2 separate regions of the Homo sapiens genome follow, and region 1 is linked to region 2. The links come from fine-mapping of genetic effects on gene expression. A gene starts in region 2. The other region holds a variant in brackets. All regions are shown on one strand. Distances are from middle to middle.

Region 1 (5,371 bases), 50 kb before region 2:
GGGTTTCACCATATTGGCCAGGCTGGTCTTGAACTCCTGACCTCATGATCCACCCACCTCGGCCTCCCAAAGTGCTGGGATTACAGGCATGAGCCACTGCACCTGGCCTAATATGTCTTTAAAAGACAGGGTCTCCCTCTGTTGCCCAGGCTGCAGTGCAATGGTGCGATCCTAGCTCACTGCAGTCTCAAACTCCTGGATTCAGCAATCCTCCCACCTCAGCCTCCTCAGTAGCTAGGACCCCAGTCACTCACCACCACACCCAGCTACAGGCAGTTTAATTTTTACCAGAATGAGTGGCTAGGCATGGTGGGTCACGCCTGTAATCCCAACACTGTGGGAGGCTGAGGCAGGTGGATCACAAAGTCAGGAGTTCAAGACCAGCCTGGCCAACATGGTGAAACCCCATTTCTACTAGCAATACAAAAAATTAGCCAGGCATGGTGGCGGGTGTCTGTAATCACAGCTACTCGGGAGGCTGAGGCAGGAGAATTGCTTGAACCCGGGAGGTGGAGGCTGCAGTGAGCCGAGACCGGGCCACTGCACTCCAGCCTGGGCAACAGAGCAAGATGCCGTCTCAAAACAAATAAATAAATAAATAATTAAAAAATAATTTTTACTAGAATGCTTCTGTTGTGGACAACCAACCTGAGACCCAGTGGTGGGCGTGGCCAACCTGCTGATGAGTGACACAGCTGGCGCTAGCAGTGAGCCTCCTGACTCCCACCCTGTTAAGCCACGCGGCTTTCAGGTGGTTCCTTATCTCCAGTCACATCACCAATTTTGATCCATAGCCAAAGCTATGTTGTCTAATGCAAGGTTAGAAAACCTTTCTGGGCCAGGCACGGTGGCTCATGCCTGTAATCCCAGCACTTTGGGAGGCCGAGGCGGGCAGATCACGAGGTCAGGAGATGGAGACCATCCTGGCTAACACAGTGAAACCCCATCTCTACTAAAAATATGAAAAATTAGCCAAGTGTGGTGGCGGGCGCCTGTAGTCCCAGCTACTGGGGAGGTTGAGGCAGGAGAATGGCGTGAACCTGGGAGGCAGAGCTTGCAGTGAGCCAAGATCGCGCCACTGCGCTCCAGCCTGGGCGACAGAGAGAGAATCAGTCTCAAAAAAAAAGAAAAAAAAAAAAGAAAACCTTTCTGGTTATTACCACCAATCACTGGTAACATTTATGGAGTCCATGACACACATTGTGTTGAGCTCTTGTGCACAATCTCATATCTTCACAGCAACCCTGAGAGTGGTTAGCATCCCCATTTTACAGAATGGAAAACTGAGGCTCATGATGCTTAAGTGTTACTTACCCTTACTTATCAGAGTCGAGAATCCAAACCTGAGCCTTTGAACTCCAAAACCCACATACTTGTTACAAAGATAGGTGACAGAACCCACTTCGTGCTAGGGTGCCGAGTGGCGAATTCGAGATGTGCATTTCAAAGAGTGCTGGCCCAGTCCCCGTGCCTCCCGCTGGGAAGGTGTCCGGTCATGCTGGAGCATGAGAATGAGCAGTGTTTCATGGATTTGCCGGGAGATACTGAGGATTTGTTTTTGTTTCATCTCAACTCTCACATATAAACAATATGAGAATATTATCTTCGTCCTTCACAGAGCATTATACTATCTCCGGAGTATTATGAATAATACAGCTGTCAGTGAAATCAAATAAGTGGATAAGGGGTAAAGAACCGGGCACTATCATATTTCCTCTCCACAATGGGGTGTTGCTGTTGAATCAATCCCAGCCATAGTCATCACGTATTGATTACATTTAACCAAAATTCCAGGAATATGTGAACTTCAGCTGCATGTTCAAATTAAGATATTTTCTTTTCCCATAGCAGGCTCTGAGCTATATGATTTTGGAACTGGAATTACAAGATGACATAGTGTCATTTGATAATTAGGCTAATGATACTACCTGCTTAAAAATGTACACAATTTAAATGAACGGCATTTAGGAGTCTGATGATTGGTCTATTTCTTGTGGATTTTCTGTTGCGGACTGCAACTCACATAGGCTATGCATTTGTGGAGTTTGAGTCTGAGGGTGTTTGCAGCATAGTTGCTGAAACAATGAACAACCGCCTTTGTGGTGAGAGACTCTTGGAGTGTAAGTGCTCCTGTCTTACTGCGGGGTTGCCTGGGTGCCTGCTGCTGGTGGGTGACTGTGGTGGGAAGGGCGGCTTGCCTAGCTGCTTGGACATGCCACTTCATCTCTGGGATGACTCTTACAGAATGGTGCAAGGATTTCAGTGTATGCTGCAGGCAGATTCTAATTGGAATTTTAAAATCTCCCAGCCTGAGAGCTGTTTTTACCCTAAATGGAGCTGGACAAGTTACCTTGGGGTCCCATGGGAGGAGCAGCTAACCCATCCTTATGGGCTGTGAAAGGCTTCTCTGAGGAAGTAGCATTGACATTAAAACCTGGAGACTAAACAGGAGTGAGCCAGGTGAAGGGGACAGGAGTGAAGACAGACCATTCCTGGCTGAGGGACAGTGAATGCCTAACCAGAGGTGCCTAACCATTTGGCTGTGAGGTAATGTGAGGAAAAGTACCAAGAGATGAGGGAGCAGGAAGAGGCTTCAGGTCAGGTTAC[T/C]GAAGGCCTTCTAAGTCAGCGAGTTCAGAATTTATCCTGAGGGCACTGGGGATAGAATCAAAGGTCAGGAATCGCATTGCAAAATCCATCTAAATGGCAATGGCTGCAGCTCTTCCACGTGAGATAAGCCAGGGGGAGTGGAGGAGTGACAGCACCAGATGAGTAGTTCATCCTGCAGAAAGGAGCCAGTGCAGCCCCCTACCCTGCAGTCCATAAGGTGCAGACAGCATCCCTGTCCAGATCCTGCTGCCCTTGGGAGGCAAAGCGAAGTTTCTGGCCTCCCTGTGCCCATGGCGGCCTGTGGCCATCTTAGGTACCCAAGTTCACAGGCATCTGCCCAAACAGCTGGCGAGGCTGCCCAGGTGGCATCTCTCTGTCCACTTCCCATAGCTGTGAGAGAAGCTGACTGCCTAGCTGAGGTCATGGGTTCATTCTCACATTAAAAGCATGGCTCTTGCCAAGAGGAAATGAGCTGGGTAGGTGCCCTGAAAATTGTCGACCGCACGTACCAGGTCGGTGCTGTGCTGTGTTGGACTTGAGAAAAATAGCTGAAAGGGCTCTGAATGTAGAGTTGGGGATTGTTGCTCCTGTCTAACAGCACTGACGAACTCCACTAGGGCAGAACTGGCTCATCGAATAAGGGAGGAGACCACCCCTCATATTGTCTTATGCCCAATTTCTGCCTCCAAAGAAAGAAGAAGTAAAAACTAAAAGGCAGAAATGAAATCCACAGGCAGACAGCCCTGCGCCACACCCTGGGCCTGGTAGTTAAAGATCGACCCCTGACCTAATCAGTTATGTTATCTATAGATTACAGACGTTGTATGGAAAGGCACTGTGAAAATCCCTGTCCTGTTCTGTTCCATTCTTACCTGTGTATGCAGCCCTCAGTCACGTACCCCCTGCTTGTTCAATCAATCACGACCCTCTCACGTGGACCCCCTTAGAGTTGTAAGCCCTTAAGAGGGACAGGAATTGCTCACTTGGGGAGCTCAGTTTTTGAGACGTGAGTCTTGCCTATGCTCCCGGCCGAATAAAGCCCTTCCTTCTTTAATTCGGTGTCTGAGGGGTTTTGTCTGCAGCTCGTCCTGCTACACTATCACTCTGACATGAGATCAACTGTGGCATCTTGATTATGCTGTGGGAAATGGCACCAGGAGATTCTAAAGTGAACGTTAAAATCCCTCCCCTACCATTTGGTTGAAACCTTTTTTTTTTTTTTTTTTTTTTTTTTTGGAAATGGAGTTTCGCTCTTGTTGCCCAGGCTAGAGTGCAATGGCACTACCTCAGCTCACTGCAACCTCCGCCTCTTGGGTTCAAGCAATTCTCCTGCCTCAGCCTCCCGAGTAGCTGGGATTACATGCATGAGCCACCATGCCTGGCTAATTTTTGTATTTTTAGTAGAGATGGGGTTTCTCCATATTGGTGAGGCTGGCCTTGAACTCCTGACCTCAGGTGATCCACCCGCCTCGGCCTCCCAAAGTGCTGGGATTACAGGCGTGAGCCACTGTGCCCAGCCTCAAAACTTTTTATCTTTTCAAAATACAGGTCGGTTTCTGCCATATGAAAAAGCATATGATGAAGTTTTTAAAAGCTGGAATGTTCCATTTTCAGAGACACCTGCGTATCCAGCAGTAGAAAGACATAACAAAAAAAATATGTATACAAAAGTAAAAGTGAAGAACCAATTGCTTAAAAAAAAAAATTACAGCCCAGCATAGTGGTTCATGTCTGTAATCCCAGCACTTTGGGAGGCCAAAGGGGGAAGATAGCTTGAGTCTAGGAGTTCAAGGCTAGCCTGGGCAATACAGTGAGACTCATCTCTACAAACAATAGAAAAAGTGAGCCAGGCATGGTGGCGCACACCTGGAGTCCGAACTACTCGGGAGTCTGAGGTGAGAGGATGGCTTGAGCCCGGGAAGTTGAGGCTGCAGTGAACCATGATCACGCCACTGCACTCCAGCCTGGACGACAGAGCCAGACTCTGTCTCAAAGAAAAAAAAATTATTCAGAAGGAAAATAGCTTTAAAAAAGGAACATATTGCAGTTTTCCATCTTTAGTATACACTGCTTCATCAACTCTTTGTTGTTTGGAGGGATGATGGGAGAGTTGTAGCTCACTGGTTGCAATGTAGTGTTGGGGGTCCCAGGCCACACTTTGGAATTGTTCTTGAAAACTAGTATGACCTAAACGTGCACTCCTGCACACGAAGGGTGCCCACGCAGCTTGCCATTCCTTTCAAAGGACCAGGCCTCACCATCCGCCAAACATGCATTTACTAACTTGTGGACACTTACTAATGTGGTCCTAAGCTATCTCTTCACCCGTATGAATTTGCATTTTTTTGATGACCAGCAAGATGTAACTACACAGTATGCAGTGACTGCCAGTCTGAGAAGAATGAGACTTCCTCAACGTCTATACTGGTTCGAAAATTGACAGTGAAGTAAAAAGAGGAAAAAAAAGCAAAAGACAAATGACTGAGTTTCTCACAGTTCCACTGGGAAGAATTAGAGTTCCTGAGAGACGGTCCTCCACATTCAGATGAAATCATGCCTGCCCATATGAATCACCTGCAAAGCACAGCAAAGTAAAGCTCAAGTCATGACGTGAATACAAGCTAGGCCTCGGATTTCCCTCAAAGCAAGGGAAGGAGACTCTCCCAGCTGGCTTCCTCATGTTCTCACTCTTGGCAACCAGGCCTCACTGGGGATTTGTCACGTTCCTAAGCCAAGTATATTTTCCCTTCCATTCTTTTCTTAA
Region 2 (5,371 bases):
GTGAGAAGGCAGCAAGTGAGTCAGTTGTGACTCTCTGCTCCGTGCCCCAGGGCCCTGGGTGTGGTGAAGGAAGCTGTCTGAGCAGTGGGCAGGAGGGGCTGAGCTCAGGGTGAGGGCTGGCGGCAGGGGCGGGTGAATGGAAAATACCCATCTGAACTGCCACACATCCTGACTGGATACAGGCTTTAACACGGTCCGTCTCAAAGAAACCTGTGCCCATGGAACAAACTCTGGGTGAGGTATGAGGATAAAAGCAGATGGCAGTAGGGGCGGATAAAAGAAAAATTAAATTACACTTCAGAAAGCAGGCTGTATTGAACCCATCAACAGCAAATAACAAAACACTTTTTACTGTATTTGAAAGTTGCCATCCTGATATCTTATCAGATCCTACAAAGAAAATCATTTTTGAGCCCTCTAAGCATTGGGGTGGGGGTGGCGGTTTGGAACTGTATAGGGTTGGCGTGGCGGACTTGAGGAGGGACGGTTGGGACTTCCTGGCATTAAAATTAAATTAAATTTTAATTCCCGGCCGAATTAAAATTGCTCCTCGCACGCCCGTTTTTCCATTAATGAGGGTTGGGGCTTCTCCCTCACGTTCATTGACTGAATGGCTGATGGAACGAATGAATGACTGAAGCCCAGGTGGGTAGTTAGAAGAGGCTTCGATGGAGAAGGGTCTCGAAAGACCGGAACTCTGGGCAGAAGGACAGGCCTGGGTGGGAGGAGAAGGGGGCGTTCTCGGAAGACACCAAAAGCCCCCATACCAGAAATAACAGTGCGTGCTGGGCCGGGCACCCGGGGAGGCGGACGATGGGCGAAGGCATCGGAGGGCGCCGCCGCGGCTCGGGTGCAGTGCCCCTGCCACGAAGGGCGCAACGGAGGTGGGCGTGGGAAGGACAGCACTCAGGCTCCAAGTGGGAAGCGTGCGGAATTCGCCGGCCCCAACGCCCTAGCGGGTGGCTGGGACCCCTGGGTTCCTCCCACGTCCCTGCCTCCAGTCCCGGCGCGAACTCCAGGTGTCGCCCCCAACTCCGGCTTAGAGCCTACGGCACCCCGAGCCTCCGAGCCTCCGTCCCCTCTTCCCCCGCCATTACAAAATACAAAAAGGACTAGAAATGAATACACACGGTCTCGGCCACCTAAGGACACCGAGCTCCGCAGAGCCTAGAGGAGCTAGGGAACCTAGCGCTCCCCTCGGGCCGGCCCCAGGCAGCAGCCCCCCTCAGCCCCAACTCCGCGGGTCCCGCCAGCTCTCCACTCCCAGGCCCCGGCGGCGTCCACCAGGCGCCCGCTGCCCCTCCCCAAGTCTCCTCCTCCGGGACCTCAGCCCTGGTGCCCTCCCCGCAGTCCCATTCCTGGTTTCCCTTCGCGGCGCCCCCTCCCCAGGTTCCCCAACCAGGCAATCCCTGCCTGGGTCCCTCCCCGGGACCAGTCCCTGGAGACCCTGCCCGCCGCCTCTCTCGGGCTACCACTCTCCGAAACTCCATCCCTGACTCCCCTCCCCGCTACCTCCTCCCCAGGGGTCCCGGCTGGGGCCCCTCCAGGGGACCCCTCCCTGCCGCCACCTCCCGAGACACCCATTTCCCCCGCCTCTTCCCAGCCGTTCCTTTCTGGCCCCGTTCCTCAGCTCCCTCTGCCTGCTGCCCCTCTCCGGGGTCCGCTTCCCGAAGACCCCTCCCCAACGCCCCCGCCCCGCTCCCGGTTCCTGCCTCCTCCACCCCGGATCGCCTTTCCGGCGTCCTCTCCCCAGCGCCCCTTCCTGCGAACCTTAACCGGACAACCCCAGTCCAGCTCCCCCAACCCACCGCGGCGCCCAGTGCCCGGGGATCCCTGCCCGCCGCCCCTCCCTGGGACTCCCCAACCCCGCGCCCCTCCCTGGCGCCCTCCCGCCCGCGCCGTCAGCCTTCTGGGCAGCAGCCCGGGCTGGCTCCCTCCCGGGGCGGCGCGCGCTACCTGGATCTCGTGGATGCGGCTGAAGCCGTCCCTGCAGAAGAACTCCGCCAGGTTGGCGAGGGTCCTCGGCCCCGGCATGGCGGCGAGGCTCCGGGGACCCTCGGCTCGGCCCCCTCCCGGCGGCGACCCCGGCCGCCCGGCGCCTTTGTCCTCGGCCCGCGCCCCCGCCGGGAGCCGTGCGCCCGCGGGTTGAGGCCGCCGCGGGGCCCCGCCGCCCAGGAGCCCACCCCGCTCGGGCGCCGGCCGCAGCCCGGCTCTCAGGATCCGCGCCAGCAGGGCCATGGCGCTCGTCTGCATCGGCTTGTTTGTCTGAGCAACTTTGTTTCGGGGGCTGCTCTTTGGGTTGCTGTTTCCTGCGTCTTAACTTGTCAGAGCAGTGCTTCTCCGTACTCCTGCCGCCGGGGCGTCAGTTTACACAGACCCTTATTAAAGGCTCCCTCCCCTGGGGCTGGGGAAAAGGCTGTGATTAGACTGCAAGAGAATGAGGCTATTATTATTTCTTCACATCATATTAATTCACACTTAAGCGTTCCTTGAAACCACCAAGTTTTAAGGTCAACCCCACTTCCAACCATGGCCAAAAAAAGAAAAGTCTACGGGGATCTTGTAAATTATTACCGTCCTTCGAAATGACTACTGAAGGTATACTGAAGAAATCTTTGGTCTTTTTTGCATTTTAGAAGCAGTTCTTTATGGTTTCAACTTAAATTATTGTAACTCAACTTTCAAAGGGGGGGAAAAAAGTGAGACGATTTTGCATGTAGTTCCTACTGTTGTAAAATGACCACATTATTATCTTGCCACAAGCTTTCTTAAAGACAATCACAGTCGTTTACGATGGCTTTCCTCGGGCTCATCGCTTTTATTCCGCACACCATTGGAAGCAGTGAGGACTAGGTGAGGGTGAGCGACTTTGAGCATGGGGCGTTTATCTGGTCCCTCACAAGGACGGGTCCTGTTGCACAAGGCTTGGGGAAGAGAAGCCACCTCCATGCCGAGGCGAGGAGAGGAGTCCGCCAACCTAGACTCAGAGCCCAGTGCCTGGCTGCACAAAGAAGTGGCCGCACAGGGAGGGATGGAGCACGGGAAAGGCCAGAGGTGTGCCATGTGGTTTCAAGGAAGGGAACTTTTTCCTAGTCAGTAGTTAAACTGCTCGCTGAGTTACATTATTTGAAGATTTCATACCGTTGGTACTCATGCATCTAAACGTAAAAAATAAGATTTTTTTCCGTTTACAACGTATTGTTACTAAGCATTTTTTTTTTTTTTTTTTTTTTTTTTGAGACAGTCTCGCTCTGTCACCAAAGCTGGAGTGTAATGGCGCGATTTCGGCTCAGCAACCTCCGCCCCCAGGGTCCTAGCGATCCTCTTACCTCAGCCTCCCGAGTAGCTGGGATTACTGACGCTGTAATCTTGAAAAAAAAAAAATGCTGCCGCGCCCGGCCAACATTTATTTTTTAAGAGCAGAGAGGGAGGTTCAGGCCTGTAGTCCCAGAACTTTGAGAGGCCGAGGTGGACGGATTACTTGAGTTCAGGAGTTCGAGACCAGCCTGGCCAACATGGTGAAACCCCATCTCTACTAAAAATATAAAAAATTAGCCAGGCGTGGTGGCACGCGCCTGTAATCCCAGCTACTCGGGAGGCTAAGGCAGGAGAATCGTTTGAACCCAGGAAGTGGAGGTTGCAGTGAGCTGATCTCGCCATTGCACTCCAGCCTGGGTGACAGCAAGACTCCATCTCAACAACAACAACAAAAAAGAGCAGGCCGGGCGCGGTGGCTCACGCCTGTAATCCCAGCACTTTGGGAGGCCGAGGCAGGCGGATCACGAGGTCAGGAGATCGAGACCATCCTGGCTAACACGGTGAAACCCCGTCTCTACTAAAAGTACAAAAAAATTAGCCTGGCGTGGTGGTGGGCGCCTGTAGTCCCAGCTACTCGGGAGGCTGAGGCAGGAGAATGGCGTGAACCCGGGAGGTGGAGCTTGCAGTGAGCCGAGATCTTGCCACTGCACTGCAGCCTGGGCGACAGAGCGAGACTCCGTCAAAAAAAAAAAAAAAAAGAGCAGAGAGGGGTCTGGCAGTGTTGCCCAGGCTGGAGTGCAGTGGCTATACACAGGCACTATCACTGGGCACTACACCTTCCAACTTCTGGGCACTACACCTTCCAACTTCTGGGCTCAAGCCATCTCCAACCTCAGCCTCCCAAGGAGCTGGGAGTACGGGCACATGCCACCATGCCCAGATAAAAATATTTTATTTTATTTTTTAGACACTGGGTCTCACTATGTTGCCCAGGCTGCCCTTGAACTCCTGGGCTCAAGCGATCCTCCCCCTGAGTAACTGGCATTACAGGTGCAGGCCACCGGCTCAGCTAAATATTTTATTTTTAATGAGTAGTTTATACCTTTACAACTCTGTAAAATCTACACTGCATTTGAATAATTGAAGTATCACGTAAGTGACGCAAAGAAGGCTATAGTTACTCAACTTACAGAATTTGATTAATAACACCAGGTGCGGTGGCTCACGCCTGTAATCCCAACAATTTTGGAGGCCACAGCAGGAGGATTGCTTCAGCCCAGGAGTTCAAGACCAGCCTGGGCAACATAGCAAGACCTGGATACTACAAAAAATAAAAATAAAAAAATTAGCTGGGTGTGGTGGTGTGTGCCTATAGTCCCAGCTACTCAGGAGGCTGAGGCAGGAGGATTGCTTGAGCCCAGAAAGTCAAGACTTCAGTGAGCCATTATCATGCCACTGTGCTCCAGCCTGGGCAACAGAGCAAGACCCTGTCTGTAAAAAAAGAAAAGAATTTGATTAATAAGTACTCAGCAACTCTTATTTATTTATTTATTGAGACGGAGTCTGGCTCTGTCGCCCAGGCAGGAGTGCAGTGGAGCAATCTTGGCTCACTGCAAGCTCCGCCTCCCAGGTTCACGCCATTCTCCTGCCTCAGCCTCTGGAGTAGCTGTGACTACAGGCACCCGCCACCACGCCCGGCTAATCTTTTGTATTTTTAGTAGAGACAGGGTTTCACTGTGTTAGCCAGGATGGTCTCGATCTCCTGACCTCGTGATCCGCCTGCCTCAGCCTCCCAAAGTGCTGGGATTACAGGCTTGAGCCACTGCACTCGGCCCTTGCAACTCTTAATTATAAGGCATGATAGCTGCAAAGTACTCAGTAAGACTTTGATCCTGCCTTTAGGAGGCCATAACCTATTTGAAGAATAAAACAGGTACACAAATACAAGCCAGATTACTATAAGTGTCACAAAACTGGACTGAATATGATTGGAATTTGTGGCAAGAAGCGATCACATCTAGTTATAGGGTAGGATGGAGCAGTGCAAAAGAAAGTCCTCCTGAAGGAAGTAGCACTCAGGCAGGGATTGAGGAAAGGAGCCGTTTAGCAGGCA

Which allele goes with the higher level. Positions count from the first base shown, and alleles are read on the strand shown. Sizes are in standard deviations (SD) of each study's normalised expression.
For the expression in coronary artery of the gene that starts at base 2,267 in region 2, T is the high allele of the variant in region 1 and C is the other (small effect, 0.37 SD a copy in GTEx).

The links. PIP is the estimated chance that this variant, and not a neighbour inherited with it, causes the effect.
Region 1: its variant is the best candidate, but not a certain one, in a credible set for the expression of CYP27C1 in coronary artery (GTEx, PIP 0.86).

What each region holds. Positions count from the first base shown.
Region 1 is chr2:127,168,003-127,173,373 of GRCh38, forward strand. It overlaps the pseudogene NIFKP9. Among named protein-coding and RNA genes, the nearest start is that of CYP27C1, 50 kb to the right of the region's middle. RefSeq lists an enhancer at 2,944-3,495. The variant T/C (reference allele first, on the strand shown) is at 2,608.
Region 2 is chr2:127,218,033-127,223,403 of GRCh38, forward strand. CYP27C1 (cytochrome P450 family 27 subfamily C member 1) reads right to left here and starts at 2,267. Exons shown (of 9, transcript NM_001367502.1): 1 at 1,957-2,267. The coding sequence starts at 2,238.